2 separate regions of the Homo sapiens genome follow, and region 2 is linked to region 1. The links come from fine-mapping of genetic effects on gene expression. Tissue or cell type: whole blood. Region 1 holds a variant in brackets; the other region holds the start of a gene. All regions are shown on one strand. Distances are between the middles of the regions. Region 1 overlaps CDS2 (CDP-diacylglycerol synthase 2). Region 2 holds the start of CDS2 (CDP-diacylglycerol synthase 2).

Evidence for each region.
Region 2: it holds the start of CDS2, and the variant in region 1 is fine-mapped to the expression of CDS2 in whole blood (TOPMed, PIP above 0.99). The same link has a PIP of 0.9 or more in neutrophils.

What each region holds. Positions count from the first base shown.
Region 1 is chr20:5,157,593-5,166,065 of GRCh38, reverse strand. All of the region lies in intron 1 of CDS2 (CDP-diacylglycerol synthase 2), which reads right to left. Among named protein-coding and RNA genes, the nearest start is that of CDS2, 35 kb to the right of the region's middle. The variant C/A (reference allele first, on the strand shown) is at 4,949.
Region 2 is chr20:5,122,616-5,131,088 of GRCh38, reverse strand. CDS2 (CDP-diacylglycerol synthase 2) reads right to left here and starts at 4,081. Exons shown (of 13, transcript NM_003818.4): 1 at 3,940-4,081. The coding sequence starts at 3,996. It also overlaps a transcript of PCNA not described here. RefSeq lists enhancers at 3,243-3,332, 3,909-4,410 and a silencer at 3,673-4,592.

The DNA.
Region 1 (8,473 bases):
GAAATTCTGATTGTGTCACTCTCCATCCTGAACCCCTTCCACAGCTCCCCAGTACCTAGATGACAGGTCTTCAAAATGGCATACAAGCCCCTTGAGATCAGGGTCTTATCTACTCATCCAGCCTTATCTCTTACAGCCATTCTGAACTAGAGTCAGTTTCTAGAACAGGTTGTACTTTCTTACCTTTAGGACTTTTGCTCCTGTGTTCCTACTTAAACAGTCTGCAAACCACCCTCTACTAAAACCCACTTCTCTTCCAGCAAATTTTCCTTGATCTTTTAAGAGTTCCCTTTCTCTCCAAATCTTCCCCAACTGCCTGTGTGTCCCAGCGGCCCCTGTCCTTCCTTAGGAGTGCTCCCCACCGTGGTTCATGCCTGTAATCCCAAAACTTTGGGAGGCCAAAGTGGGAGGATCGCCTAAGCCTAGGAGATTGAGGCTGCAGTGAGACCTGATCATGCCACTGCATTCCAGCCTAGATGACAGAGCAAGACCCTGTCTCAAAAAAACAAAAAAACAAAAAAAGACGGCTTCCCACACCGCATAGTCTCCGCCTCGAGACCATCATCTCTGTGGGGGAGCCATGTTGACTTCCTCACCACTGTACCCCCAGCACCTGGCCTGGCACCTAGAACCACATCTGCAGAGGCAGCCAGAGCCAATGATGCTGAGAGAATCCAGGGTTTGCTGAAGTGGCAGGTGTAGCTGGGCTACATGTCGCGTAGGCTGACAATTCATTTTTGCACTCAGTAGCACTAGAGGAGGCATTTTAGGGCTGCAGCCAGCTGTCCCACTGTTTATCTCCCCTTCTTCTTAGACATTTGTGGCCAAATGTATCCTAAGCAATACGGGGGTTTCCAAAAAAAGTACAGAATCTGTATGTCTCAGAAAGGATGAGGAAATCCTGTCTGAAATCCAGCTTCTAGGAATGCAAGGCTTTCTAACTCAAATACGTACAGTTGTACTGAGTCCCAACCTCTGCATGACTGCCAGTCTCATACATTAAACCCATAATTTTTGTGACAAGGAATGACCAGGAATCCTTTCTCCCAACACTCTCTCCCACCTTGCCCATTGAAGCCTCCTTCTGGAGTAGATGCATCTGTTTACTAACAGCAAGCATATGACTATAAATATGAAATAGCTGCAGGAAGTACCAACCTCCATCACAAGCCATTACTTAATTCAGAACAGAGACTATCAGAGACAAGAAAACCACTCAGGTCCCCAGGAGGCTCTGCCAACGGCTCTGTTCCGATGACATCACTTGTTTTCCTATTGTCTTCCAGGGTTAGGGGAAAGACACCAAAAATCAGAAGCCCCACTGGAGTCCAACGGGTCCTTCTATTATCAGTTCCTTAGTCGGGCATCTCTATTTAGTATTTAAGGGAAAATGAGTTTTCAGCGCTACTGGGGAAGGAAGGAATTTTTTTTTTTTTTCAGTTTATTAAGATAAAGCTCTCCCAAGGAGGGAGTATGTCTAATACTGCCAAAAGATCTAGTAAGATGGAGAAGAAAAATATATTCGCAATCTCAAAACTGGGCTCAAGTGTGCTCCCCAGACCTCTGTCAGGAAGTAGAACCAGGACAGCTGCTGGGCTCCACATGCGACGAGCCCCTAAATCATAAATCGCCATCTGGTACCTGCTTCACTGTCACTCACCTCACAATAGTGTTTTCTACAAAGATTCCTAGACAAAATAAGTAGACATGAGAGCAAATGTCCCCAGTGTCTCATGCCCCAACCTCCCCTACTCCTGTGGGCAGACAAGCACCCTGGGGCTGTTTACCATATTGGAACATTATATTGTCACTTTTGTAGTATTCCTGGTTTATAACCAACCATCATGGAATCAAGTACCAATCAAATAGACTGTAACTATTCAAGGGAGAAACTAGTATGTTTCTCCCTTGAAGAACATGGAATTAACAGTGTTCTCAATCCCAAATGTGTCATATTAGTTATAGAAGAAATTATGGGGTGGGTGCGGTGGCTCGTGCCTCTAATCCCAGCACTTCAGGAGGCCAAGGTGGGCAATCACCTGAGGTCAGGAGTTCAAGACCAGCCTGGCCGACATGGTGAAACTCCGTCTCTACTAAAAACACAAAAATTATCCAGGCGTGGTGGTGGGCACCTGTAATCCCAGCTACTTGGGAGGCTGAGGCAAGAGAACTGCTTGAACCTGGGAGGTAGAGGCTGCAGTGAGCCGAGTTTGCACCACTGCTTTCCAGCCTGGGCGACAGAGCTAGACTCTGCTTCAAAAAAAAAAAAAAAAAGAAAGAAAGAAATTATGAAAGCCACAATGCTAAATAGTTTCTTTCTCTTTTTGATAAATCACTAAGGATACCTGGGGAAAAAATTAAATTGAAAATGAGAAAGTCTTTGAAGAAACATTCCTAATGGCCAACGATAGGACAATTTGAGCATTAAAATAATAAACAAAAAGTGATTTAAACACAAGTATATGAAAATTTATGAGTTCATAATGATAACTGTAAGAAACTACTGGCCAGGCGCAGTGGCTCACGCCTATAATCCTAGCACTTTGGGAGGCCGAGGCGGGTGGATCACCTGAGGTTGGGAGTTCGAGACCAGCCTGACCAACAGGGAGAAACCCTGTCTCTACTAAAAACACAAAATTAGCAGGGAGTGGTGGCCCATGCCTGTACTCCCAGATACTCAGGAGGCTGAGGCAGGAGAATCGATTGAATCCGGGAGGTGGAGGTTATGGTGAGCTGAGATGGAGCCATTGCACTTCAGCCTGGGCAACAAGAGCAAAACTCTGTCTCAAAAAAATAAATAAAAATAAAAACGAAACAAAAAAAACTACTTTGGCCACCTCTGAAGGGTGCTGAAACACCAAATCTTTTTTTGAAAACCAGTAATTAAAAGGAAAGAGCCTCTCTACATTGCCCAGGCTGGTCTCGAACTTCTGGCCTCAAGTGATCCTCACGCTTTGGCCTCCCAAAGTGCTGGGAGAATAAGCATGAGCCACAGTACCTGGCCATCAAATTACTTTCAAATATCCATTACCCCAGCAAAGAAAAGTCAATGTGGCCTCAGTATGATCTCCCTAGGCTCTGGAGACTAAAGTGCATCTTCAAACATAAGTAAATAAAACAACCTCCATGCTGCCAAATCAGACAGATTCCCCTGCCTTCATCTTATCATATATCTTGGCAATGTCAGATCTAGTTGACCATTTCCTCCTTGAAACATTCTCCTCTCAGCTACCTCCATACCATACTTATCAGGTTCTCACTCTACCTGACTGGCTGCTCTTTCTCAGTCTCCTGTGACTTTGAAGTCTACCTGACTTCAAAATGTTGAATGGGCCCTGGGCTCAGTTCTGGACCTACCACACTCTCTCCCTAGGTATCATCATCCAGCCCCTTGGCTTTAATTACCAATTCCATGCCAATGACCCCAACATTTGTATCTCCAACCCCAACTTCTCCCCCAAGCTTCAGATTCATATTTCCAACCACTTACTGACATCTCCACGAGAAAGTTCTTACAGGCATCTCAAAAGTAACACATCTAAACAGAACACTTTTGACATTGTCCGTAAAACTACTGATCCTGAAGTCTTGCCTAGTCAATCAGTTGACAGCATGCGAGTCTATATACCCTGCATAAGCCAGAAACCTGAGAGGTAGCGATTGAATACCCCTTAACCAAAATGCTTGAGACCGGAAGTGTTTTGCATTTCAGAGTTCTTTTCAGAATTTGGAATATTTGCATTATACTTACTGGCTGAGCATCCCTAATCAGAAAATCCTAAATTCAAAATGCTCCAATGAGCATTTCCTTTGAGCATCACATTGGCACTCAAAAAGTTTCAGATTTTGAAAATTTCAAATTTTTGATTTTGGGATGTTCGACCCTTAATTCTTATCTCCCTATCTTCCCCCAGGTACTGGACACTGCAGTTGGTTCCCTCCTAAAAATCCATAAACTATTTCATGGTATACAGCAGCTTGTACAGTCTACTTATTTTTAATTCTGCCCCTCTGCCACAGTGATAGGTTCACGAACAGGCATTTACCCCAGCCTAAGGCAATGTGCACCTTGACTGTTTTGGAGTAGGCACTTGACCCAAGATGGTACAAGCAGTTCAAACAGCAAAAATAGCTAATGGCATTTTAGGCTATATTAACACAGGCATGGTCTGGTTCTAGTTAGCGTTAGTCAAACTTTACTTAGAGGCCAAGTACGTCCAATAGAGTGGTTAAAACAGTAAGGAGACAAAAAAGAGCAAGACGATAAAATGAACAGATGAAGAAACCAGAAGGGCTAGGCCTGGAGACAACTGGGAAATGAGCATACTCTACTGCAGTACTGAAAAGGAGAAACTGGTTTTATGTCCCTAACAAGGAAAAATTATTAGGTAAATTACGGTAAATCAACTTTCTGTGCAGCTATTAACAAGACTACTATAAACACCGTGCAGCAACATGAAAAAGGCAGAATATAAAACTATGTCTATACTGGATTATACTACTTACACAAAGTATGTGTCAGTTATCAATGGATTGCCTCTCAATGTATGTGTCAGTTATCAATTGATTGAATCCTTGGGACTCTGCTGGGCTTGGATCAATCCCTTTCAGGTCCACTGCTACCTCCAGGTTTTGTCAGTATAGAACTTTCTGCAATAATGGAAATGTTCTCTCTATACTGTCCAATATGAGAGCCACAGCTGTGTGTGGCTTATTGAACAATTAAAATGTGGCTAGCGAGACTAAGGAAGTGAATTTATGTATTTATTTTTAATTAAATTTAAACTGCCACACACTTCACATCCACTAGAGTGGCTATTTTCAAAAAAGAAAAAAGAAAAACCAAAATAACAAGTACTGGAGAAGATGTGAAAAAACTGAAACCCTTGTGCACTGTTGGTCAGAATGTAAAATAATGCAGCTGCTATAGTAAACAGCCTGGCAGTTC[C/A]TCAAAAAATCAAATATAGAATTACCACATGACTCAGCAATTCCACTTCTGGGTATATACCCAAAAGAACTGAGGGCAGGGACTCAAAGAGATATTTGTACACCCATGTTCATAGCAGCCTTATTCACAATAAACAAAAAAGTAGAAGCAATCCAAGTATCTATCAACAAAGGAATGAACAAAATGTAGTATACATATACAGTGGCATATTATTCAGCCTTAAAAAGGAAGGAAATTCTCACACATGCTACCACATGGATGAACCTTGAGGACATTGTGCTAAGTGAAATAAGCCACACACAAAAGGACAAATATATGATTCCACTTACATGAGGTACCTAGAGTAGTCAAATTCGTAGAGACAGAAAATAGAATGGTGGTTGTCAGGGGCTGGGGGAGTGAGAGGGGAGAGTTGTTTAATGGGTACAGAGTTTCATTTGGGGAAGATGAAAATATTCTGGAATGTTTGTTCTGGTGACAGTTGCAAAACAATGTTAACGTACTCAATGCCATAGAACCATACACTTGAAAATGGTTAAAATTATCAATTTTATGATATATATAATATTTAGCCACAGTAAGAAAAGGTTTAATTGGCCACATGTGGCTAGTGGCTACTATACTGGACAATGCAGACAGTCTAACAGCTGTATCCACCCCAACCTGCAACCAGGAAGAAAACTGCTAAGGCTCCCCAAAACTCTGGTTCCCCTACTACTGTGAGGAGGGGGCTAGAACCCCCAACACCACCTCAGCAACCTACAACTTCTAGTCCTCAACAGCCAGGTGAACAGGATTCTGAACAAGGTTCAACCAGTCAAGGGCAGACCTACCCCTTCAGCAAGCATATGAAGTGTTAAGTAGTTGCAGGGCTAAGAAAAGACCTAAGCAAAGCCATCCTCAGCAGAGATGCCGGCTCTCCCCTGCCTTTCTTTTAAATTTAATTCAGTGGCCAGTTACTACTCTGCCTTTTAATAGCAGCAGCAACAGATGAAACAGTTGTGATTCTCGCAGCATCAAATGGCAGTGGCACAAACAGCTCAGCTTCATCATCATCGGCATATGAGCAGCCAGTCAAAAACTAAAATGAAGAAGGCATATCAACCACTCCAATATTCTGAATCTTGCATTATTTTTTCCTCTTTTTTAAAAACATAAGGGCACTGAATCACAAGGATTCTGAGTTTTTACTTCATTTTTAAAAATGTGTCAGTAATTTATACTGCTAAGATGTACAAACTTTACACAGGTGCACAACCCCATTTTTTTTAAGTAAAAACAGGGTAATTATTTAACAAACTAGGGTTGGTTTGCTTTTTAAACTGCACATAATATATATGGAAATGACCTAAAAATTACTAGAAAAATCTTTCAAAAGAACCCAGTTTGGTATATATTTTGTAGAAAAGGTTTGTGAATAATGTAACAAATACAATTTTTACAAATCTGTTTTGGGGGAAAAGAGGAACAGAACAAAGCAGTTACCATCTGCACAGGCATTATTATTCCTTTGACATCTTGCTAATAGTCTGTTAATGAACATCAAAACACCTAAAATTTTCTTCTGATGCTTTACAAAGATTCCTTACACTTGTTTACATGCAAATCATCCAAAACAAAAAGAAAAAAACTATAATATACTTTTAAATTACTGAACTATAAAATTTTAACATAATTTCATCTTCAAATGAATTTATCAAGACCATTGAGTCATTTTTTGATGCTTCTCTGTTCTACATTATCTGACATAAAATTTATGTCACACACTGGGGCCTGTTGTGGGGTGGGGGGAGGGGGAGGGAAAGCATTAGGAGAAATACCTAATGTAAATGACGAGTTAATGGGTGCAGCACACCAACATGGCACATGTATACATATGTAACAAACCTGCACGTTGTGCACATGTACCCTAGAACTTAAAGTATAATTTAAAATATATATTAAAAAAAAGAAAATGTAACACATTAGATTTCTGATATTAATTTGAAATGAATAACAAAATTTAGTCAAGTTTGTAAAGGTCTTAAATGTTTGATAAAACTTTACTACAAAAAAAAAATTCAATCTGATTTTCAAAGCGGCTCGCTTATCCTTCTGTTCCATCGCAAAGACACATGGGTTAAAGCAAGGTTTTCCTAACATCAAGTGCCTCACCCTCACCTGTGCTGAGATAACAGCGTGAAGGAGTCTCAATTCATCTTCACTGTCAGATTTAAATTTTGTTTGGAGAACCCCTAACGTATCAGCAGAGAACACAGTTTGCAAATCACTGCAAAACACCACCATATATCTCTGACAAATGAGTTATTACTACTTGAGGATGCACCTTGTAAGATACAACGATCACCCAGTATTAAATTCCTACTGTGTCCCCAAACCGCTAGCTGCTCAGAAATTGGCTGTGTTCTCATTCTGTCACTCCAACCAGAAACTGGGGTACATAGTGGTGGCTCTGTTTGTACATATCAAACCAAGATTCACAAGCTTTACTGTTAATAGAAAAGTCTACTTATAGTCTTATATCCTGAAAATATGTCATTTGACAACCTGGAGACCAGAGTCAAACAGAATCCATTATAATCTGGAAACAAGTGAAAAATCTTGGTGAGATTTTACAGGGTTGTTTAAAAAATGATGACCTAGGCCAGGCCCAGTGGCTTACACCTACATGTAATCCCAGCACTTTGGGAGGCCAAGGCAGGTAGATCACTTGAGGTCACGTGCTCAAAATCAACCTGGACAACATGGTGAAACCCCGTCTGTACTAAAAATACAAAAAAATTAGCTGGGCGTGGTGGCAGGTGCCTGTAATCCCAGCTACTCAAGAGGCTGAGGCAAGAGAATCACTTGATCTCGAGAGGCAGAAGTTGCAGTGAGCCGAGACTGTGCCATTGCACTCCAGCCTGGGCAACCAAGAGCAAAACTCTGTCTTAAAAAAAAAAAAAAAAAAAAAGACCTAAAGCAGGAGCCAATCTTTTGGCTTCCCTGGCCCACACTGGAAGAAGAATAACTGTCTTGGGCCACATATAAAATACACTAACACTAACGATAGCTGATAAGCTAAAACAAGCAAACAAACAAAAAACAAAAAACTCATAATGTTTTAAGAAAGTTTACGAATTTGTGTTGGGTCGTGGGTCAGACAAGCTTGAACTAAAGGACCTAAAATGATAATCTGTCAGTAACAAGCTCCTTCAGAAAGAAGTGAAATAAGTGCCTGCCACCTACCCCAATCTGAAGTCTTGGCCTACGGTGGTCTGCATATTTATGTCTCCCCAAAATTCATACGCTGAAATCCTAACCCCCATCTCAATGGTATTAGAAGATGGAGCTACTGGAAGGTGATTAGGTCATGAGGCTGAACCCCTCATTAATGGGATTAGCACCCTTATAAAAGAGGTCCCAGAGAAATCCTTCTTCCACCACATAAGGACTCAGTGAGAAGCCCTGGATGAACCAGAAAGCAGCTCCTTACCAGACACTCAATCTGCTGGCGCCATAATCTTGGACTTCCCAGACCCCAAA
Region 2 (8,473 bases), 35 kb after region 1:
CAGAGTCTTGCTCTGTCGCCCAGGCTGGCGTGCAGTGGCGCCATCTCGGCTCACTGCAAGCTCCGCCTCCCAGGTTCACGCCATTCTCCTGCCTCTCAGCCTTCCGAGTAGCTGGGACTACAGGCGCCCACCACCACGCCCGGCTAATTTTTTGTATTTTTAGTAGAGATGGGGTTTCACCATGTTAGCCAGGATGGTCTCGATCTCCTAACCTCGTGATCCACCCGCCTCGTCCTCCCAAAGTGCTGGGATTACAGGCGTGAGCTACCACGCCCAGCCTCCAGAGCTTTTCTTTTCTTTTAAGACGTTGTTTGGCTCTTGTTGCCCAGGCTGGATGGAGTGCAACGGCGCAATCTCGGCTCACCGGAACCTCTGCCTCCCAAGTTCAAGCGATTCTCCTGCCTCAGCCTCCTGAGTAGCTGGGATTACAGGCATGCACCACCACGCCCGGCTAATTTTGTATTTTTAGTAGAGACGGGGTTTCTACTAAAACCCCGTTGGTCAGGCTGGTCTCGAACTCCTGACCTCAGGTGATCTGCCCACCTCAGCCTCCCAAAGTGCTGGGATTACAGGCGTGAGCCACCGCGCCCAGCCTATTCCAGAGCTTTTAAAGCACTGACTTGAAAATTGTTCACTGGATTCTTCTACTATGAAATTAAAAAGTTCTTGTTTCATAATGCATTTCCTTAAAATTTATTATTTCTAATTTCCTTGGGTTCTAACACAAGAATATTGGCAAAGCCAAAGTCATGGAAGTAGGTGTTTCCCAAACTATGAAACAGAATAAATCAGGATTTTTTAAAAGTTTACTATGGGCCGGGCACGGTGGCTCACACCTGTAATCCCAGCACTTTGGGAGGCCAAAGTGGGTAGATCACCTGAGGTCAGGAGTTCGAGACCAACCTGGCCAACATGGTGAAACCTCGTCTCTACTAAAAACACAAAAAAATTAGCCAGTCGTGATGGCAGGCACCTGTAATCCCAGGTACTGGGGAAGCTAAGGCAGGAGAATTGCTTGAACACGGGAGGTGGAGGTTGCAGTGAGCCGAGATTGTGCCATTGCACTCCAGCCTGGGCAACAAGAGCGAAACTCTGTCTCAAAAAAAAACAAAAAAACAAACCAACAAACAAAAGTTTACTATATACATTCAAAGACAAATAATAGATTTCACAGTTTTTAAAATGTTCCCTTATTAAAAATCCCAAACATGGCCAGGTGTGGTGGCTCACGTCTGTAGTCTCAGCACTTTGGGAGACCGAGGCGGGCAGATCACGAAGTCAGGAGTTCAAGACCAGCCTGGCCAATACAGTGAAACCCCATCTCTACTAAAAATACAAAAAAAAAAACGCCAGGTACAGTGGCTCATGCCTATAATCCCAGCACTTTGGGAAGCTGAGGCGGGAGGATCACCTAAGGTTGGGAGTTTGAGGCCAGCCTGACCAACATTGAGAAGCCGTGCCTCTACTAAAAATACAACATTAGCCGGGCATGGTAGCACACGCCTGCAGTCCCAGCTACTCGGGCGGCTGAGGCAGGAGAATTGCTTGAACCTGGGAGGTAGAGGTTGCGATGAGCCAACATCATGCCATTGCACTCCAGCCTGGGCAAAAGAGCGAAACTCCCTCTCAAAAAAAAAAAAAAAAATTAGCCGAGCGTGGTGGCGGATGCCTATAGTCCCAGCTACTCAGGAGGCTGAGGCAGGAGACTAGCTTGAACCTGGGAGGCAGAGGTTGCAGTGAGCTGAGATCGTGCCACTGCACTCCAGCCTGGGCGACAGAGAGAGACTCCGTCTAAAAAAATAATAATAATAAAATCCCATACATGACAATTCAGTGACAATTGAGAAGTTCTGAATAATGGGGTGAGGAACTGATTGTCTTGTTCTCGGTAATGAACATCAGGCTTTTAACAGAGTGCATAGCAGCTGTCTTTTAGGAAACAACACGCCACAAGTGGACCTCATGACCCCAGGCATTCTGTCACTGTATAAGTGATATAAGTGCACCTCTAGCTGGACAGCTCCTCAGGTCCTCCCAGTCTAAAGTACAGGATGTGAAAGTAAGACGGTTCAACTCGCACTTTATCTCTGGGGGATGGATCCAACGAGTCCGGGAAGGAGGGTAGAATCTTTATGTTGCATCTCATAATCCCAAGGTTGTTTTTTGACATTCTAATTATTGTACATAGTTAGCTTTTCAAAAACATGGCCCACCAGCTATCATGCCTTCTTTCTTCTCTCTCTCCTCACACCTTCTAGGTCCACAAAGTCCCACTAACATCAAGCATGATCTCACCCTTAAACAGAGCTACAGAGCCTCCAAACATCTGCATACTCACCAACTAGTAGTACAAGGTAAGTCAGAATTCTTTCAGGCTGAACCAGGATAGCCAAATGAAAAATTAGAGACTTCAAAGTATCTTGTCTCTGCAAGCGACTGCTAAATCCTCAGCCCCAGCCCTAAATGTTCTCCAAAATATGTTTTTGTTTTTGTTTTTTGAGACAGGGTCTCAAACTCCTGGGCTCAAGCGATCCTCCTGCCTCAGCCTCCCTAGAAGCTAGGATTACAGGCGAGCAGCACTGTGCCTGGCCAAAATATATGTTCTAAAAATCGGTAGGAACAGTTCTCTTTGGATAGTCCACTGTCAACTGCAATAACACGAAAGTTGTTTAAAAAAAACCCATGATCTCATTATCTTTCACCAAAAACATTCCTCCTAGTGTAACTGCTCTGTTGACATCCTGTCACCAAATCTTGTGCTTTCTTCCTTCTGGGTGTCTCCCTAATGTCCGTTGCGTCCAGTCATCAAAAAGTTACAGGCTGCATTAGGGGAAGCCGTGAGCCTGGTGTAAGGCAACAGGGATTGGTGGGAACCGATGATCCTCAGCTCCAGCCAACCATTGAGCAGGTGACAAAGTGATGGTGGACCCTCCAATTATCTAAGACAGGCAAGAAATTTAGATTGTTAGGAGAAACTTTCTGATTTTTAAGGCAATATGTGGGCCAAAGAAAACATCTACAGGTCACTCATGGGCAATCCCGAGTGAACCAGGCTCCCTCAGTCTGGTCCAGGCTCCCTCAGTCCCTTCTACACATCACTGTCTGATCAGTTTCCCAAACACAGGGCTCCTGATCACTGCTATCTCGGAAAGCACAACTACTGCTACAAAGTCCTATACTGCCATTCAACCTCCACAGTAATAAAACCAATCCCTACCTTCCTTAACTCCCCTACACAGATCTTTCACTTCACCCAAAGGAGTCCACTCCCCCACCCGTCACCCCCGCCACTGTCCCCGCCAAGATGGCCTCCTTCCTACTCTCCTCCCCTACCCACCAGAGCCCACACGGTGCAGGAAACAACCCATCAACCGGGAGGACGCCCTCCAACACCTGCTGATGACGGACTGGCTCACTGGGTAACACCCCTTTGCTCAAAGCCGATGATTTCATGCCCAAGAAGGGATTTACATCTCCCAGGAGGCAAATGCTATGGCCTTGTCCTGATTCCCCCACCCCCCAAAATAATAACATTGTAAAAGGGAACGGAGAGCCTAAGTTGCGCTCAGAGGAGCCGCCTCCCTAAGAAGGCTCTGCATATCTTCACCTCCAGGAAGGCCTCACGGAGTTGGGGGAGAGGGGAGTCCCCGCAGCCAGCCCAGCGAGGCAGGAGGCCGTGCGCCACTCCCGAGAAGCTCCTTCCTGCGCCCCGGGGGAGCCACTTCAGTCAGACCCTGAGCCGGGACCCCGACCCGCCGACCCCTGACGCGCGCGCCGCGAAGGCCGGGCACCCGAGGGCCCTTCGCGCTACCCGGGCCCGGGGCCGCCGTCGGCTGCGACAAAGGGTCAGAGAACAAGACGACCCCTCTGCGCGCGTCCCCCGCAGGCCTCCCGGATGCGCCGCTGTCCCGGCCGCGCCCACCCCGACGCTGCCGCTACCTTGTCCTCGGGTGGCGCAACCGGCTCATGGGCCACCCTCTGCCTCAGCTCTGTCATCCTGGGAAAATCGGCCCGACGTCGCCGCGAGCTAGCAGCGAAGCCGCCGGAGCAGGCAGCTCGGCGCGGGCACGCGCGGACTCCCACGGCCGGCCCCGCCCCGCCCGGGAGGCGCGCGGCTCTGAGCGGCTCACAGTTCCCTTAGCAGCCCAGCAGCCAGCCCTGGAGCTCGGCCCCACCCAGTGCCGTCACCGCCCTTTCACCCGGGCCGAGCGGGGTCAGCCTTCCCTAGCCCCGACCCGAGAGCTCCCTCTCCCGGGAGCAGGGCTCGGAGCGAGTGCGCACGCGCAGCGCCACCATCACGGTCCGGAATATCCACCAATGGCGCAAATACGCCAGGGAGGCAGGGCGACGGGGGCGGGGCGGGGCGGAGCAGAGTCGAGAGGCGCGCATTGGACGGCAGCGTCAGGGGCGGGAAAAGGCGTGCGTTTCAGTGTGCGATTAGCCAATGGGAGCTCCCGCTTAACCGCGGATGGCCGGAGCTGGCGCCCTGGTTCTGGAGGTAACCGGTTACTGAGGGCGAGAAGCGCCACCCGGAGGCTCTAGCCTGACAAATGCTTGCTGACCTGGGCCAGAGCTCTTCCCTTACGCAAGTAAGTAGACGTTATTTAGGTCGAATGGAAAGGCCAGGTGAGCCGACCTGGTTAAGAGCATTTTATCACTTATCACATGATGAGAAATGAAACCCACGCTTCAGTCTGCTTTGCTTTGCCAAGCGGTCGCTAGTACTTGTTAAGCACTAATTGTATACTAGGCACTGAGCTGAGTAATCGCTTTAGTTGGCTTATCTCGTTTAATCCACACATGGCTTGGAAGTGGGTATGATTTGAATTTTACAGTTAAGATCTTCCTCAGTGGTTTGTTTGTTTGTTCGTTTGTTTGTTTGTTTTGTGACGGAGTCTCGCTCTGTCGCCCAGGCTGGAGTGCAGTGGCATGATCTCGACTCACTGCAACCTCTGCCTCCCGGGCGCAAACAATTCCAAGGTGCGCGCCACCACGCCCGGCTAACTTTTGTATTTTTAGTAGAGACGGGGTTTCACCATATTGGTCAGGCTGGTCTCGAACTCCTGACCTCAGGTGATCCGTCCGCCTCCGCCTTCCAAAGTGCTGGGATTACAGGCGTGAGCCACCGAGCCTGGCCCTTCCTCAGTTTTTCAAATTTGTCTTCTGGACTATGGAAAGACCTTTTTTGGGACAGAAGTGCTGTCTACTTTGTTTACTGTGCATCCTCTATGTCTTTGACACATCCATTGTAAGTACTTGTTGGATGGATTTAAAACTTTTAAAAGGACCTTAGCCAAGGTCTCCCAGCTAGAAAGTGCCTAGTAAGAATTAGAACACAAACAGGTTTGTTACCAGCCCACACTCTAACCACCATACTATACTGCCTGCCTGCATTTATTAATACTTGTGTTGCTCCAGCATTGCCTTTGGTGTTTCCTGTTCTTTCTATTCACTGCCCTGTAAGTGATGTAAAACACATATAACACTGCGTCCCCAACTTAAGCATACTGTAATCTCACAATGAGACACTTGCACACAAAAGAATTGCAATTTCGTTTTTTAAAAAAATATAATTTTACATTTTTCTTCTTTTCAATTTTTAAATTTTAATTAATTTATTTCTCCTTTTTTTAGAGACAGGGTCTCACTATGTTGCCCAGACTGGTCTTGAACTCCTGGGTTCAAGAGATCCTCCCGCCTAGGTCTCCCAAAGTGCTGGGATTACAGGCATGAGCTACCATGCCTGGCTAAAATTTCCTATTGGTAATTTTGACCTGAGCTGTGAGTTTTGGGGCAGGTAGTGAGAATTCTGAAAACAGCATTATATATTCCTGATTTCTATATGAGTATATGCCCGAGTAGCTTGGACTACAGGTGTGCAGCACCACACCCAGCTAACTTTTAAATTTTTGTGTAGCGATGAAGTCTCACTTTATTGCTTAGGCTGGTCTTAAACTCCTGGGCTCGAGCAATCCTCCCACATAGGCCTCCTAAAGTTCTGGGATTACAGGCATGAGCCACAGCACTCGAGCAAGATGATCTTCTAAGACAGGTGAAGATGTTAGTGTCTAGAACTTCACCTTCAGGGGCACGTAGGTATGAAAGGTCATATCTAAGTGAGTGTCATGTCAGTCCTTCTAGAAACTCAGCTGCTCCTTTTCAAATCCAGCCTAATAAAAGGAGGCTTGGAGAATCAATGCACATAAGTCAGAATTATAGAATGCACAGCATGATTACTAGGATGGATAACATGTGGTCTGAACAAACTTCTCATCCATTACACTCAGCCCTCTCAGGTTAATGGAACTCAGATCAAGTATATTCCTGAAGTCAGTACTGTGTGACGAACAGGGGTCTGGTGGAAGTGATGCTAATAGGGCTTTAGGCCAGCTTTAGAGCCCTTCTCTCTCTCTCTTTTCGTTTTTTGTTTTCTTTTTGTTTGTTTTTTGTTTTTTTTTTTTAGACAGTTTCCCTCTTGTTGCTCAGGCTGGAGTGCAATGGTGTGATCTCGGCTCACTGCAACCTCCGCCTCCCAGGTTCAAGCAATTCTCCTGTCTCAGCCTCCCGAGTAGCTGGGACTACAGGCGCCCGCCACCACAGCTGGCTAATTTTTGTATTTTTAGTAGAGACAGGGGTTTTAGGTCAGGCTGGTTTTGAATTCTTGACCTCAGGTGATCCGCCCACCTGGGCCTCCCAAAGTGCTGGGATTACAGGCATCAGCCACTGCACCTGGCTCAAGAAACATTCTTAAGCATGCTTGATCTTGGTAAATGCCCCTGATTTCTTCTGTAGGAAAAAACCCTAGAGATCGAATTTCTGTGTCAAAGAATAAGTAAAATTCTAAGGCTTTTGATACACATTTCTAAGTTTCCACCAGAAAAATTATACCAATGTATACTCCCACTTGCAATGTATTTAAGTGCCTACTTCCTTGAATCCTTCCTAACACACCAGGTGTTAACATGATTTTTATTAATTTGGTAGGTTAAAATTCTGTCTCCATTGAATTTACATTTCTTTGCTTATTAATGTGGCTAACAAACTTCACGTTTATGAAGACTAGGACTGGACAGTGGAGGCCAGATACCTCTGGCTTTTTGTTTAGATGAATAAATTTTCTATTTCTCTTAATCCATTCAAGTTGAGTTCTCTGTCACTGAAACCTAAACTATACTAACCAATATAATCCTTTGAGGCATACTGAAGTCTTAAAACTTGTATGGTTATTCATTATGTTTTATGGGTTTTTTTCTTATGTTTGGAAGCCCATAGGAAGATCTCATAAATATTTACCAAAATATTTTTCCATTTCTTATTGGGTCAAGATTTGAATTTGAATTCTTTATCTAGAATTTAGTGAATAATTATTAGGAAAAGTCTTTTTTTTTTTTTTTGAGATGGAGGTTTGCTCTGTCACCCAGGCTGGAGTACAGTGGCGCAATCTTGGTTCACTGCAACCTCTGCCTCCCGGGTTCAAGCAATTCTCCTGCGTCAGCCTCCCTAGTATCTGGAATTACAGGTGTGCACCACCACGCCCAGCTAATTTTTGTATTTTTAGTAGAGACGGGGTTTCACCATGTTGGCCTGGCTGGTCTCGAACTCCTGACCTCAGATGATCCACCTACCTCAGCCTCCCAAAGTTCTGGGATTACAGGCATGAGCCACTGCGCCCATCCAGAAAAGTCTACAGCTTTTATTCTTTTCTAATAGTTTAACCAATTATCTGATCAAAATTTACTTCATTCTTTCTCCCACTGATCCAATAGTACCTTTACTAGATGTTAGAGTAGCCACTTAAAATGTAAATTGGATCACATCAAAGATCTGCTGTTGACCACATTCCCTTGCACTTTTAGAGAGCCTACAAAGTCCTGCAAGAGCTCACCCCAGCCTCTCTGCAACCTCACCTTGCACCACTCTTGCTTCAGACACATCAGTCTGAGTTCTACATCAAACTTGTCTGAATATATTCCAAGTATGCTGACCTTTATAATCATGCTATTCTCTCAGCCTAGAATGCTTTTTTCCAACTCTCCAAGCAGCTGTCTTCTCTGATAAGATGCTACCTCCTCAGAGAGGCCTTCTCTGACCACAGTCATAGGCATGTTTATGTCCTCATTTCAGTTTAACATAAAATTTACGTAACTGTACACCTCTTTATCATTTGACACTTTTAGGAGGACATCACTTCTGTAATAGAGCAGAAATAAACAGATTGATGTACATGGTGGATCCCCCATGGATAGAGTTTGTCATTTAAAATGTCTTCAAATCTATTACATGTAATTTGGCATTAAACCAAAATGTTATTATGTAAGCAGACAGAACTGAAACAGAGTAGTGGAGCATATGCATTTGTTTTTAGTGAAGCAAATGTTCCTCACTGGAGGAAGGAACACATTCCACATTTTGCAAAGGAACTGAGATTTTAACGGACCCAAGAAAGGAAAAGAACCACAAACAGATGATGCTG